Linked DNA regions of Homo sapiens. The protein of the gene in region 1 interacts with the protein of each later gene in a pairwise test. Each region holds a gene or a part of one and is shown in the gene's direction. Other genes may lie near its edges.

Evidence for each region. The genes of interacting proteins can lie anywhere in the genome.
Region 2: the proteins of BMF (region 1) and BCL2L10 interact in binary tests that used the Homo sapiens proteins (3 or more experiments, as listed by UniProt).

What each region holds. Positions count from the first base shown.
Region 1 is NC_000015.10:40,098,836-40,105,894, reverse strand, and holds part of BMF (bcl-2-modifying factor), read left to right. Parts: coding exon 1-100; intron 101-1,554; coding exon 1,555-1,715; intron 1,716-7,059. UniProt on the Homo sapiens protein: May play a role in apoptosis. Isoform 1 seems to be the main initiator.
Region 2 is NC_000015.10:52,109,776-52,116,830, reverse strand, and holds the start of BCL2L10 (bcl-2-like protein 10), read left to right. Parts: upstream 1-4,055; 5' UTR 4,056-4,104; coding exon 4,105-4,593; coding exon of another isoform or gene 4,594-4,663; intron 4,664-6,857; coding exon 6,858-6,983; coding exon of another isoform or gene 6,984-7,024; 3' UTR 7,025-7,055. UniProt on the Homo sapiens protein: Promotes cell survival by suppressing apoptosis induced by BAX but not BAK. Increases binding of AHCYL1/IRBIT to ITPR1. Reduces ITPR1-mediated calcium release from the endoplasmic reticulum cooperatively with AHCYL1/IRBIT under normal cellular conditions.

The sequences.
Region 1 (7,059 bases):
CAGGAAGACAAAGCTACCCAGACTCTCAGCCCAGCCTCCCCCAGCCAAGGTGTCATGCTGCCTTGTGGGGTGACTGAGGAACCCCAGCGACTCTTTTATGGTGAGTGCTCTCAGCCTCAAGACTCCTCCCATAGAGACTGGGGGAAAAGAGGGGACTTTCCCTCCCCAAACCTGCCCTTTGCTGTTTCCTTCCCCCAAAGTGATCAGCGGGGCTGTTGATTCCTTGACTTCCACCTGCTGCCTCTCGGCTTGTTATTGCTCCTCACCTGTGCCTCAGACCCCCCAAAGGGCAAATTGTCCCCTCCTGGAGGGATCCTTGGGTCCATGGTATCTCCTTTTACATCTTGTGCCCCTTGAGTGGCCTGGCCTTTAGTGTCCTAGCAGTGACTTGCCTACTATAAAGTGGCTCCTGTTGCCCTGGAGAAGTCTGGGGGATCTGTGACTGGCTGTTGACAATGAAGGGAAAAACCCAGCCGGTTCTGGGAGGGAGGGTTCCCAAAGGCAGAAGGTGGCCCCCAGTTGCCACATGGGACTTTCTGTGTGTGAAAGGGGAACTGGAGAAAGAGGTTGGGCCTGCCTGGGCCCAATGCCAGGAGAGGGGATGCTTCCAAGGCTAAGACAAGACCCCTTCATTTGTGGGCTTAAATAGTTTGTTTTATGAGAAATATGCCCTCCTCTGGCAAAAGGGCAGGGTTAGACAGTCTGTTTTCTTCTATTAGCACTGCAGCTTATGGAGGGAGGGTAAAGGCTAGGAGCGTGGCTTACTGTGTCTGACGAGCTGATTGAGGAGACACTGCAGTTACTCCCAGAGGGAACTGCCCCTTAGGGCAGTTCTGGCAAAGCAGTTCTGGCGGGAGTCTGAGAAGTTGGATAAGGCGGGCAGGCGGGGAAGAGGGAAAGGAGCGAGGAGCCCGGCGGACTGGCGCCCCTAGCGGTGGTTCTAACGCGTGCACTGGGTAAGTGTGGAGCGCTGGTCTAGAGGTCTTGCCTGGGGCTGTCTCCGGAGAGCAACTTGGCAGCTCTGTGCGTCTCAGTTTTCTCTCCCTCTTTTTGTGCTGCTGCCCAGGAGCTTCGGGAGACCAGCCTTACTCTACTGCACTAAAAAAGTGAAGACACTTTTTGATTTTTTCTTGCTCTGCCTCTTACTTTGCTCAACCCAGAAACTGGAGAGCTACCTCCAGTGCTTTTCCAGAGAAGAGCTTCAACCTGCTACTACGTGAATAACCAACTGTGGTTAAGGGTAGCTTGATAAATAAGGACGGAAGGCTGGCATGTTCGCCTGCACACGTTACCACCTGCCCTTTGTCATGGCACTGTCAGTGAATGGAGAAGCGAAGAGAAGGCTGGGGCCATTCTTTCTGTTCTGCAACTTTTATGCACTTGGGCAGCAGGCTGTCCAAGCTTGGCAGAGTGCTCCAATAGAGGCAGGCTGGCTCCTATCCTTTCTCATATGAGGATTTACCCTCAGCCTCCAATCTTGGCCAGGTCAGGCAGGCGTAGGGAGGTTGGAGCAGTTGTGGAGAATGCTGAGATGTGGATCCTCTATCTTTGCAGGCAATGCTGGCTATCGGCTTCCTCTCCCTGCCAGTTTCCCAGCAGTCTTGCCCATTGGGGAGCAGCCCCCCGAAGGGCAGTGGCAACATCAAGCAGAGGTACAGATTGCCCGAAAGCTTCAGTGCATTGCAGACCAGTTCCACCGGCTTCATGTGCAGCAAGTAGGCACGGGGGTTTAGGGGAGGAGGGTTGAGTCTGCTGGGGCTTGGGGGCCAGGGCCTGCCTCTCTCCTCTTGTCAGCAACTCTGTCTCTGCCAGACCTCAAGGATATTGTCCCAGAGTTTTGGTTATGGCGGTTCCCATGGGCAGGAGGGGCCTAACTGGCTAAGCATCTTGCCCTCATCTCTGAGCTCCACATTGGTTAACTGCCCAGTCTCAATTCATGTTCCATAAGAGCCCTCTCGGGAGAGGCTACAGTCTGGGAATAGGATGGCTTTCTGCAGCTCTGCTTGACAACCTGTCTCTTCTTATGGCCGTGGCTGAGGGGTTGCCCCTCACGGACCTAAGAGGAAGATTTTCCGGGTGCTGCAATGAAACTGGGCAGTTGGGGGGTGCCTGGCTAAGGTACAGTGGGAAACGGGTAACCAGGCCAAGGGATGGGGCCTGAGTTGGGGAAAGTGGTGGAACCGGTTGAAACCTGACACTTTCCAGCTGGGGAGGCCGCTCCTCACTGTCTCTGTCTGGGAACCAGGGTCTGGGACTCCGGAGAGTGTACCTCGGAGAGGCTCCCCAGACCGGCGGCCAGCCGGGCGCTCAGCCGGGCGCTTGGCCGGCAGCCTGGCACCAGCCCCGCCAGGGCGGGGCATCACGTGTCAGCCGAGCATGTGGCAGAGTCCATCAACAAAGGCGGCGGCTGGCAGGCTCGTGCTGGAGGAGCCCTCTGTGCCATGGCCTGGAGGCTGCCTTCCCTGTTCCAGCAGCCGCTGTCTGGGCTGGGTCCCCAGGCACTTAACCCTTCCTCTTCGGGCTGGCTTTCTGGATGGCTGCCAAGGCTGGGAGAGGAGCCTGAGGCTGCATCCGTGCTGGTACAGCCACAGCTGAAGCACAGGCATGCCACCTGGAAGCGAACACATTCTGTACTTCTGGGACTGTGTCCCCAGCCCAGCTGGCTCTGAATGTGTGTTTGTGTGTCTGACTGCGAGGAAATCAAGGGAATAAATAGCTTGACCATGACTGGGCAGACTCCGAGGTTAGAAGGGTAGCTTCAGGTGGTCGGAGGAGAGCTATTGGTAGGTTGACTTAAGGGTCAAACCATTACCAGTGCCAGGGGAAGAGGAATTGACCTTGGCTTTCCTAAGAACAGGACATTGCGGGTTACATATGGTTAGTGCCCTCTGCCAAGGAGTTCTAAGGACAGTTTGGGGCCAGGTCTGGGCCTGGTAAGTCCTCCCAGTCCCTTAGTGATCAGGAAGGGAGGGTGGCCCTATGCTTAGATAATAGATCTAAGCTCCAGTTCTTACTCTCTCCTTTGATTATTTGGTGGAAACTTGGCTTCGAGTTTCCCCTTCAGTCCATGTGTGGACTCACTCTGATTCTTGTTTTCAGTTTCTTGGCCTCCTTCCTGCCCATTCACTCCACCGTGGTTGTACAGGCCTACGGCTGAGCCCAGCTCACAGCTTCCAGTCCTGGTACTGGAGAGGATGGGAGGACACAGTGGCTGTGGCTCTTTTAGACTCATCTAGCGGGCTCCGTGGAAGGCAGCTTGCTTCATTTGCAATAATCTGATCTCTTTCACCAGTTATTCCCCAGAATATTCCCCCATCCACTGGTGAGCCTCTATAGGCTTGGGAATAGGCCGGGAGCCCTCCCTGGCACAGGACTAGGATACAGTCCTGGGGGCCCTCCTAACTTGGTCCTGAACAGGAGGAGGAGGAGGCCCTTATCCCAAGGTCTGGCCCTGATTTTTTTTTTTTTTTTTTTTTTTGGCTCTTTCGCCCAGGCTGGAGTGCAGTGGCATGATCTCGGCTCACTGCAACCTCTGCCTCCCCAGTTCAAGCGATTCTCCTGCCTCAGCCTCCCGAGTAGCTGGGATTATAGGCACGCACCACCACACCTGGCTAATTTTTGTACTTTTAGTGGAGACGGGGTTTCGCCATGTCAGCCAGGCTGGTCTCGAACTCCTGACCTCAGATGATCCACCTGCCTCGGCCTCCCAAAGTGCTGGGACTACAGGCGTGAGCCACTGCGCCTGCCTTGCCCTGCTTTTTGCTGGTTGGCATCACTTCTCCCAGTTCAGAGCTGCCTCTTTGCATGCACAGGTTAGTTTTAGACAAGGTGTTGTGCTTTTAGCCAGAGCCACCCAAGCTGGGGAGAAGGAAAGTGGAGGTGCAAGGCATGAGAGTCTCCTCTGCCTTGCACCTTACTCCACACTGGCTCCCAGGTTTCCTGTACCCCTACCCTCCTGCCATCTACCTACTTCTTACTTACAAGGGTAGGAGGCTGACCAGTGAGCCTTTTCTAGCTCAAAGAGCTGGTTTTCCCAAATTTTCCAGTACAAAGAGCCAGGGTTTTGTCTTCTCCTTAAACAGTTCTCCCCAGAGTCTTCTTGCTTTTAACCCCCTCCTCCCCACTGACCCTACTTATAGACCTTCACCAGGAACTCATCCTGCAGGAAGGGCTAAGGTGATGGCTTCAGGCAGGTGGAACACTGGTACTCCTGGAACGTTTCAGCAGCTGGTTTTGAGAAGTGAGTCATTTTCTAAGCTTGATTCTTATATAAACTACAGTCTAAGATTTCATATCTAGAAAGTACTGTTGTCACTCCTCCATTCTTATCCTTTATCTTCTTTCCCTATTCCCTTCCCTCATTTTTGCAGGCAGAGAAACTGAGGCAGTGGGAAGGAGGTTATTTAGGATTTAGTTTCTAGGCTTTGGGTTCAGAGTCAGAAAGCCCAGGTTTGAATACCAGCTCTGCCATCTACTAGTTTTCAGGAAGTCACTTGACTTCACTGAGCCTATTTCCTCTTCTATGAATTAGTGCTAATACCACAGAATTTTACTGTGATAATTAAGTGAGAAAATACCTATGAGAGTTTGGGACACACAGTAGATGTTCTTTAATGCCTGTTTCCTTCTTTCTGTTTATGATCCTGATCACCCCCGACGTTTGTTCTTGTTGGTTCACAATTCATTTCCCACTCCACCTGGCAGGGGACTCCCTGAGCAGAGCTGCCTCCCCTGAACTTCCCTCCACCTGCCTGGTCCAGAGGAATTAGTGTCCAGACTGATCATCTGTGGACCTTGGCCTTATCGATTTCTCTTCAGGGAATGATAGTCATTCCCCATCATTGCGGGCTGGATTTAGAGAGCCAAGAAAAGCAACCCTAGAGGCAGATGGGACTTGAGGAGGCCTGACCGTCACCTTTCCCCTACATCTGGGATAGTGTCCTGGGGCTAGACAGTGGCCACTGGTCCATAGTCCTGTGGAGAGTGTGCACTCCCCCTTTTTGTCCCTGGTTACAGACCTGAGTTACTCGTTTTTTTGCACCAGAACGACCTTCTCCCTTGGAGGTATGGAGCAGAGGGAGGGGGCGTGCTGATGCCATGAAATCCCAATTGAGTGTATCGACCTGGCTCCAGATGCAACAGGTTCCAAGTTTCCCTGGGTGTCGTTTTACGTGGGCCATCTGCACTTTCAGCGCATTTCCCAAGAGCCTTGCTAGGTGGAGGACTAGCCTGGTCACCCGAGTTACCAGTTCAGGGTGACTCTTCCAGATCCACAGGCAAAAAACCGGAGGCAGAAGATCAGAGTTAGCAGGGTGCTCCGCCTCAGCTCTTTGTGTCTCCAAAGCAGCAAGAGAGTTGGAGGCAGAGTGAGTGGAGGTAAAAACCTTTCAGAACCTCACCACACATCCCACCTTCCTTTGGCCGGGGCAGGAGTGAAGGTTCCCCTGTTTGCTCCTCTGTGAGCTGACAAACTGTGGCAGGGACCCCCGATGGTCTGCTGATAATGACTTATCTTGAGGGTGGTGCTGTGGTGCTTCTGTGTCCAGCTTCTGCATGGAAGAGCATGGTGCAGATGTACTTCCTCCCTGAGCCCCTGGGCTGCCCTGGCCAGAAGGTCTGAGCCCCAGCTTTCCTGTCCTTGTGCCATGGCCTCATTCAGCACGAGCCTAAGGAGGGGCAGGAAGTGGTATCCCCTCCCCTTGGGAGAGTCTTCTGTCCCAGTGGCCCATCATGACATTTGGGGGTATTTCTGGGCAATGTTAAGAAGCCAAGAATCCTCAAAAACAGTAGTTACTGTAAACAGTCGAGTGAGTAAAGCTACAGGAGGGTTGGAATTCTTCATGTTGGAAATGGCTTTTTCACTTGGACCAGGAGTGGCTCCATTCAGAAAAGCCGGGTTTGGAAATCTCTGAATAGTAATTAGACTTTTTGGCAAATGAAATCTGAGAAAACTTTCAGCCACTCAGTTGAAACCATCTTTAGCTGTAATATCACAAAAAGGATCCTAGACTTGTAGGCAGATCTGTTAAAATCCCAGCTCTGCCACTTATAAGTTATGTGTTCGTGGGCAAATCATGTAATCTCTCCAAGCCTTTTTTTTTTTTTTTTTTTTTTGGTGAGACAGCGTTTCGTTCTTCTTGCCAAGCTGGAGTACAGTGGTGCGATCTCGGCTCACTGCAACCTCTGCCTCCGGGTTCAAGTGATTGTCCTGCCTCAGCCTCCTGAGTAGCTGGAATTACAGGCATGCACCACCATGCCTGGCTAATTTTTGTATTTTTAGTAGAGACGGGGTTTCTCCATGTCGGTCAGGCTTGTCTTGAACTCGCGACCTCAGGCGATCCGCCCATCTCGGCCTCCCAAAGTGCTGGGATTACAGGTGTGAGCCACTGCACCCGGCTTAGTCTTGGTTTCTAATACTTACCTTGCCTAGTTGATGTGAAGGGCCTTTAGGAGTTGTGATACAAATAACTATTAAGTCAGGGACAGTTGAGTACTTTTAGAAATATGTTAAAAGATGACTTTAGGATTTTGCTTGGACCTGACTTTGTAATTTGGGGAGCTCTTTTGGAAGTTGTACCCGAGTTGGTGTTTGCATGGTTTATTAACTAGCAGCTTCTCTGCCTAGCAGACTGGATCCTTTGTTCAGGGAGCCCCTGATTGCTTCCTGACACTTTGGGATTCTCTAGTTATTAGTGAGTGGTTTTCTGGAACTTAAGCTGGCTAACTAGGTTGCTCAGCGTCTAGATGGGACAGCCCCGGGCAGGGGCCCCAGAGGTTTGCTATAGAGTGAGATGGGTCCCTAGGAAGCCAGCCTCTGTCCCAGGAGTGGGAGGCCCACCTAGGACAGTGCCAGGGGAAGAATGAGGCTGGGGGAGGGACTGCGGAGAGCCAGAGTGCGTGAGAGCCAGCGCCGGGGCTGGGGGCCCTGTGTTTGCTCTGTGGCTGGCTCTGTTTATATCGCTCGCTATATTTAGCTTCTGAGTCATCAGCGTGGCAGACTAGAGGCTGAGTTCCCCACACACTCTGCACCTGACTGCTCTCTCTTCCAGGAGAAGGGCC
Region 2 (7,055 bases), about 12 Mb from region 1:
AGGTCACACCAGTCCGAGGTTGGACAGGCAGTTGCTAGGCAGATGTCTTTGCAGAAGTAATTTTTGTGTGAGGTTGCAGCAGCCTATGTGCAAGGTTGTAATTTTTGCAGAATCTTTTGTGATCATTTTTGGTATTAGGCATACAAGCATGAGAATCCCCTCTTCATGGCCTCCCCAGCTCTATTTGTCATGGTTTGTTTTTTTAAAACACTAGTGACTCTATTTGAATTCTAACAACTTTCACATTCCCAACACAAATGATAGACATTTAAGGGATTAATATGCTAATTACCCTGATCATTACACATTGTATACATGTATCAAAATAACACACTGTACCCCATAAATACATACAATTATGTGTCAATTAAAGATCATTATTTTTAAAAATAGGACCAGAAAAAAAGATGCAGACCCTCTAGTAAGGAGATGGGATCAGGAGTGATTCCATGGTTAATTTAACCCACATAAACAACTAATCGTAAGTATGGTATGAGCGTTTATGTAAAGACTGTGACAACAGGAAATGTCTGTCTTTGAACCCAAGGTTATCTAACCAGCACACCAATGGTGAAAGATTAACTTTGTCAGAAACCAGGAACCATGAAGCAGAGGTCACTGTTTCCAACCTGTGTGTTTTCCACGGTAATTGGCAGCCTCCCCAAGGGAAATTAAAACATATGTCCACACAGAAATTTGAATGCAAATGTTCATAGCAGCATTACTCATAATAGCCCAAAGCTGAAACAGCCCCAATGTTCCACAGTGGATGAATCGATGAACAAAATATGGCGCATCCACAGAATGGAATACAAAGAAAGAAAGCGTGGACACATGCTGCAACATGGATGAACCTTGAAAATATTGTGCCAGGGGAAAGAAACCAGAGACAAAGAGCCACATGTTGTAGGATTCCATGTATATGAAAGGTCCTAATAAGCAAACTCATAAAGACAAAAAGCAGATTGGTGGTCACTTAGGGCTAGGGTGAGGAGTGACGGTTAGTGGGCACTGAGTTTCTCCGGGGGGAACTGAATTAGATGGTGGTGATTGCACAATTCTGTGAATAGACTAAAAACCACTGGACTGTAAGAGGGTGAATTTTTTGGTATATGAATTACATCTCAATAAAGCTGTTACTTAAAACGTGGAAAAAATAATAAGCAGTCACTAGCTATTCTCAATAAAACAGAAACCACATAGGTAAGACCAATATTGTCACATTTTGGTTTTGGCTGATAATGGGGCAAGTGAGCATAGTCACCGTTGCCAGAGGATTTACCATTTACAAATAAAAGTTTCTGTGGAGTGACAACCTTTTACTGTGTGCCAGGTACTGTGCTAAGCACTTTGTATATACCGATTCATGTAATCCTTGTGACAGCCCCGTGATGCCCCATTTTTAGATGGGGAGATTGAGGTTAGGAGAGTTGAATAACTTGCCCATAGCTGCACAGCTTCCAAGTTGCAGAGACAGGATTTTCACCGAGTCTTATTACAAACTGCCTCATATTGTGTGGACTGGAAATTCTATGTTGAGGTTAATTTATTCATTTGTTGTTTAGTTCTTTTCATCATTGTTGAGTTACCAATGGCAGTTCCAGAGGATTTATCATTTACCCCAAAGCTACTGCAAATCTAAGAGAAAACAATGTTCTTGCTGCTAAAGTTTAATGTACAAAAAGGTAAAATCATGACTGTCTTGCAAATAAAACATGAACATGTATCCAAGCTTTTAACTCACTGATTAATAAGGAAACCAGTAAGACGTCAAAACCAGTTCAAATGGGAATTTGATGTACAGAAATTTATATTCTAACAACACTTATTTAGTTCACTGTAAGAAATCATTTGCTTTGGCAGATTAGGCACTCAGCAGAAGCACCAGCCAGCTCAGCCTTTGGAGGGAGAATTCCATGTTGTTGGACCCATACATATCCTCTGTCCCTGCTGCCAAGAGCTCTTTGTTCATCGGCCCGTTGAGCAGACACCACAGCAGCTGCATAGAGAGGCTGGCTGACAGCCACAGAGCATGTAATTCTGTCCATCTGATTCAGGGTCTTCTCTGCAGTGGATGCCCTTTGGTGGGCATTCAGGTGAGATGCAGATATCTTCAGTCTGCCCATTCGGAGGGATTCAGCCACATATCTCTTTCCAAGATTTTCTTGTCACCAATCTTCCAGTCCTGTTCTTTTTAAGGCCCTGACCATCCAGCTAAACCATCAGCGACTGTCCATGAATCAATTTAGGTCTGTATTCTGGCCATCTCTCACTCCAGACATAGTGGACAGCCTTGAGTTTCTGCTCACTGGAAGGATTCTCCTTCACCACTGCCCTTCACAGTCACCCCTGAGTGAGTGTGAGTGAATACTGCAGCTGTTCTCTTTCATGTGGTACCAGCACATCATACAGACCCATCTATAATCCAGGCTGGAGGTTTTTCTCCCTCAGTCAACTGGACATAGGCAGCATCCCAAGAAGCCATAGTTGTAGAATGAGGGAGAGGAGGCAAAGCAACAGGAGTTGATGTTGGAAGAGTCTGAGCCGCCTGCTCATACAATTTACTTATACCTTCTGAACCTGCCTGGGCTGTTTCTAATACACCATTTCCATTTGATGATAGGTGGCTGCTGTATACATCCAATTTTATGGCTACGTAGGTCAGATGACATCCAGTTCATGATGGGAGCTCAAGCTTCATGGTCAGGCATTCTGCCTCTATCAAGGCCTAGTAGCAAGGCAGAACCTGCTTCTCAGAAGGAGAGTAGTTATCTTCAGAAGAGGTTCTAGATTTACTTTAGAATTCTAGAGGTCTGTACTCTCTCCTGTCAGTGCTTGCCAGAGGCTCCATACAGCATCCCTGTTGGACAAAGTCCCACTGGATCTGTTGGATCACAAGACCCAAGTGGTAGGGCAGCTTTACTGCAGCCTGAACCTTCTGCAGAGTCTTCTCTTATTCTGCTCCTCAATCCACCAGCCTGTCAATTGGGTTGAAATAGCACAAACACAGTATATGTTGCCTTCAAAGTCCAAAATGGCTTACTGTTCCAGGCTGTGTCCCCCAAAATTCATATGTTGAAATCCTAACCCCCAGTGTGATGGTATTCAGAGATGGGGCCTTTGGGAGGTATTAGATCACAAAGGTGGAGCCCTCACGAATGAGATTATTGTCCTTATAAAAGAGACCCCGGAAAGCTACTCCACACCTACTGCAATGTGAGGACACAGCAAGAAGCCTGTTGTCTATGAACCAGGAAGCAGGTCCTTACAAGACACAGAACCTGCCAGGGCCTCAACCTTGGACTTTTTAGCCAACAAAACTGTGAGAAATAAATGCCTTTATTTATAAGTCACCCAGTCTATGGCATTCTGCTATAGCCGCCTGGACAGACTAAGACAGCTGCCAAGTGCCGTGCCTCTTTTGTAGTGATGCAAGATGCAGCAACTCATCTTTCACCCTGGGAGGGCTATTTCAACATGCTCCAGACCCCTGAACCCCCAGAAATACCACTGCTAGTATCCATTCTGCATCAGTCTGGATCCAATCAGGAGAAAGAAGCCACGGAGTAATATGAACTGAGAAAGTTTAATATAAATATTAGATGGCCGGGCGCGGTGGCTCACGCCTATAATCCCAGCACTTTGGGAGGCAGAGGCGGGCGGATCACGAGGTCAGGAGATCGAGACCATCCCGGCTAACACGGTGAAACCCCGTTTCCACTAAACAATCCAAAAAAATTAGCCAGGTATGGTGGCGGGCGCCTGTAGTCCCAGCTACTCGGGAGGCTGAGGCAGGAGAACGGTGTGAACCTGGGAGGCGGAGCTTGCAGTGAACCAAGATCGCGCCACTGGAGCTAAATAACCCGAGTCTCACAGTGCATCTGATTGCTACGCGAACACGTGCGCACCACCAGGCCTTGCCTTGGGGACTGGAACAGGTGCAGGTGGGATTCCCATCAAAGGCTCTTCTCTCAGTCCTGAAAAACAATATACCGGGGGCCGGGGGCCGGGGGCCGGGGCGGGGCACGGCAGCCCTACCCTGGGGGAGGCGCGGCCGGGCCAAGAAAACCAGCGAAGGCCCGGCCCCCCAGCAGAGGCCGGACCATGGTTGACCAGTTGCGGGAGCGCACCACCATGGCCGACCCGCTGCGGGAGCGCACCGAGCTGTTGCTGGCCGACTACCTGGGGTACTGCGCCCGGGAACCCGGCACCCCCGAGCCGGCGCCATCCACGCCCGAGGCCGCCGTGCTGCGCTCCGCGGCCGCCAGGTTACGGCAGATTCACCGGTCCTTTTTCTCCGCCTACCTCGGCTACCCCGGGAACCGCTTCGAGCTGGTGGCGCTGATGGCGGATTCCGTGCTCTCCGACAGCCCCGGCCCCACCTGGGGCAGAGTGGTGACGCTCGTGACCTTCGCAGGGACGCTGCTGGAGAGAGGGCCGCTGGTGACCGCCCGGTGGAAGAAGTGGGGCTTCCAGCCGCGGCTAAAGGAGCAGGAGGGCGACGTCGCCCGGGACTGCCAGCGCCTGGTGGCCTTGCTGAGCTCGCGGCTCATGGGGCAGCACCGCGCCTGGCTGCAGGCTCAGGGCGGCTGGGTGAGCACGCGGCGGACACCGGGACACGGGGCGGGACGGGCAGCCGGGAAGCGCCCACGAGGCTGGCACGGTGAGGAACCCACCGCGCCAGGCCCCTGGAACGAGGTTTCGTGAAAGCAGAAAGGCTCGTTTCAGCGGGCCTGGAACGTTCGCTGTGAAGTCTGGGGTTTCTCCTCCCCTGGCAGAAAGGCCGGCAGAAATCGGCCTTCTTAGACGGCCGTGAACCGTTCCGAAGCAGCTGCGCAGGCTTAGGTCTGCTCACTTGGACCTTGCCCTGGCCTTAGCCGTCGGGGACTTTTAGGGGGGCACCCACGTTAGGTCTGAACGTTTTGCTCCTATAGAAATCCCCAACCAATGAAGTCAGCAATGGCGGGGCCCCAGCCAGGTGGGGTGTTTTTCTCCTTCGCCTATTAAATGCGCCTTTGGAGAGACTCAGACCCATTGATCACAACCCCCTACGCCTCTCAGCCTGGCCAGAGAGGTTGTGGAGTGTGGTGGTCGCCCAGTGGTGGCGCTGACCCAAGGTTCCTTAATTTCTAGTCCTCTGCACCCAGTCCTCGGTGAGAACGTTCTAGGCCCCTGGCTTTCAGCTGCAAGCCTTCATCTCTGTGGTCAAGGTTAGAGGGACAGGCCCTTGCCCTGCAGCTGATGATCAAGGAAAGCCACCTGGTGATGAGCCCACTGCATGCCTCTGGGGGCTCTGAGCTAGACCCCATTTCTTTCCCCACCACCTTATTGGCGTTGATTCAATGACTGAAGTGGCCCATGTTATCGGATACCTATAGCCAAACTATTAAAACCAGCAAGTTTTTTGATCCGAAATGTAGCCTCCTGGGGGCAGTTTCCATTTAGACCTTTTTCTTTTTTTCTTTGAGGCGGAGTCTCGCTCTGTGGCCAGGCTGGAGTGCGGTGGTGGATCCCAGCTCACTGCAACCTCTGCCTCCCGGGTTCAAGGATTCTCCTGTCTCAGCCTCCGGAGTAGCTGGGACTACAGGCGCGCCCCACCAAGCCTGGCTAACTGTGTGTGTGTGTGTGTGTGTGTGTGTGTGTGTGTGTGTGTGTGTTTTCAGTAGAGATGGGCTTTCACCATGTTGGCCAAGATCTCGATCTCTTGATCTCGTGATCTGTCTACCTCAGCCTCCCAAAGTTCTGGGATTACAGACGTGAGCCACCTCACCTGGCCCCCATTTAGACTTTCTATAGTGACAAGTTGGGTTCTATCTGAGAAGGGAAAGGGAGTGGGAGGTGTGTTAGCAGGAACTCCTGCCTTGTTCATAATGTTAGTGTTGGTCTTCAACCCTCTGGGCCGGTGAACTCCCTTCAGCTGCGTGCCTAAGAGCCTCACCTGAGCCCTGTCTCAATACGGCATCTGGCCCCTCCGGGCTCTCTGTACCTGAAGAAGAGATTAGAATTGGAAAGGGGCCGTTGAAGCCTTTTTTTGTTGTTTTTGGCTAATCACTGTTGATGAAAGAATAATCTCTTAACACCAAGGAGCTGAAATTCTTGGCTGGGTGCAGTGGCTCGCACCTGTAATCCCAGCACTTTGGGAGGCCAAGGCAGGTGGATCACCTGAGGCCAGGAGTTCAAGACTAGCCTGACCAACATGGTGAAACCCCCTCTCTACTAAAAATACAAAATTAGCCAAGCACGGTGGCAGGTGCATGTAATCCCAGCTACTAGGGAGGCTGAGCCAGGAGAATCGCTTGAACCCAGGAGGTGGAGATTGCAGTGAGTTGAGATCTTGCCATTGCACTCCAGCCTGGGCACCAAGAGCGAAACTCTGTCTCAAAAAAAAAAGCTGAAATTCTCAAATTGGGTAAACATAGTTCACCCTTGTCTCTGCCCATTGCAGTTAAAATGCCACAGCCTGGAGTTCAATTCCCTTCCTAAATGGGGTTGGTGCTTGCTGTAGTGTCAGGTGATAACTTTTCAATCTAGTGACTTGACAGTTTCCCAAAAGGCATCTCTTCTTTGCTCAGAAAAGAGCATAATAAGCTACCTTCCTCTTGGTTTTGAGTCAAGATATGAGTGTTCCTGCACCAAGTGACAAAGTTAAATGCTTGCTTCTGTTCACTCTGTTAGACTTACCAATCCTCACTCCTCAGGGGCTCCTCATTACTGGATGTGTATTGGTCAGAATTTCCTTTCCTTTTACTTTTTAAATCCAAACTTTACTTTGCTGTTTAATCTGGAAGTTCCTGCGTGTTTTGAGTGAGGTTCTCAGCATCATGAGGCAATCTAACTTTTCTCTCTCCCCCCTGTAGGATGGCTTTTGTCACTTCTTCAGGACCCCCTTTCCACTGGCTTTTTGGAGAAAACAGCTGGTCCAGGCTTTTCTGTCATGCTTGTTAACAACAGCCTTCATTTATCTCTGGACACGATTATTATGAGTTTTAAAACTTTTAACCCGCTTCTACCTGCCCAACTGTGACCAACTAAATGACAGATGTGTGAGAACAAGA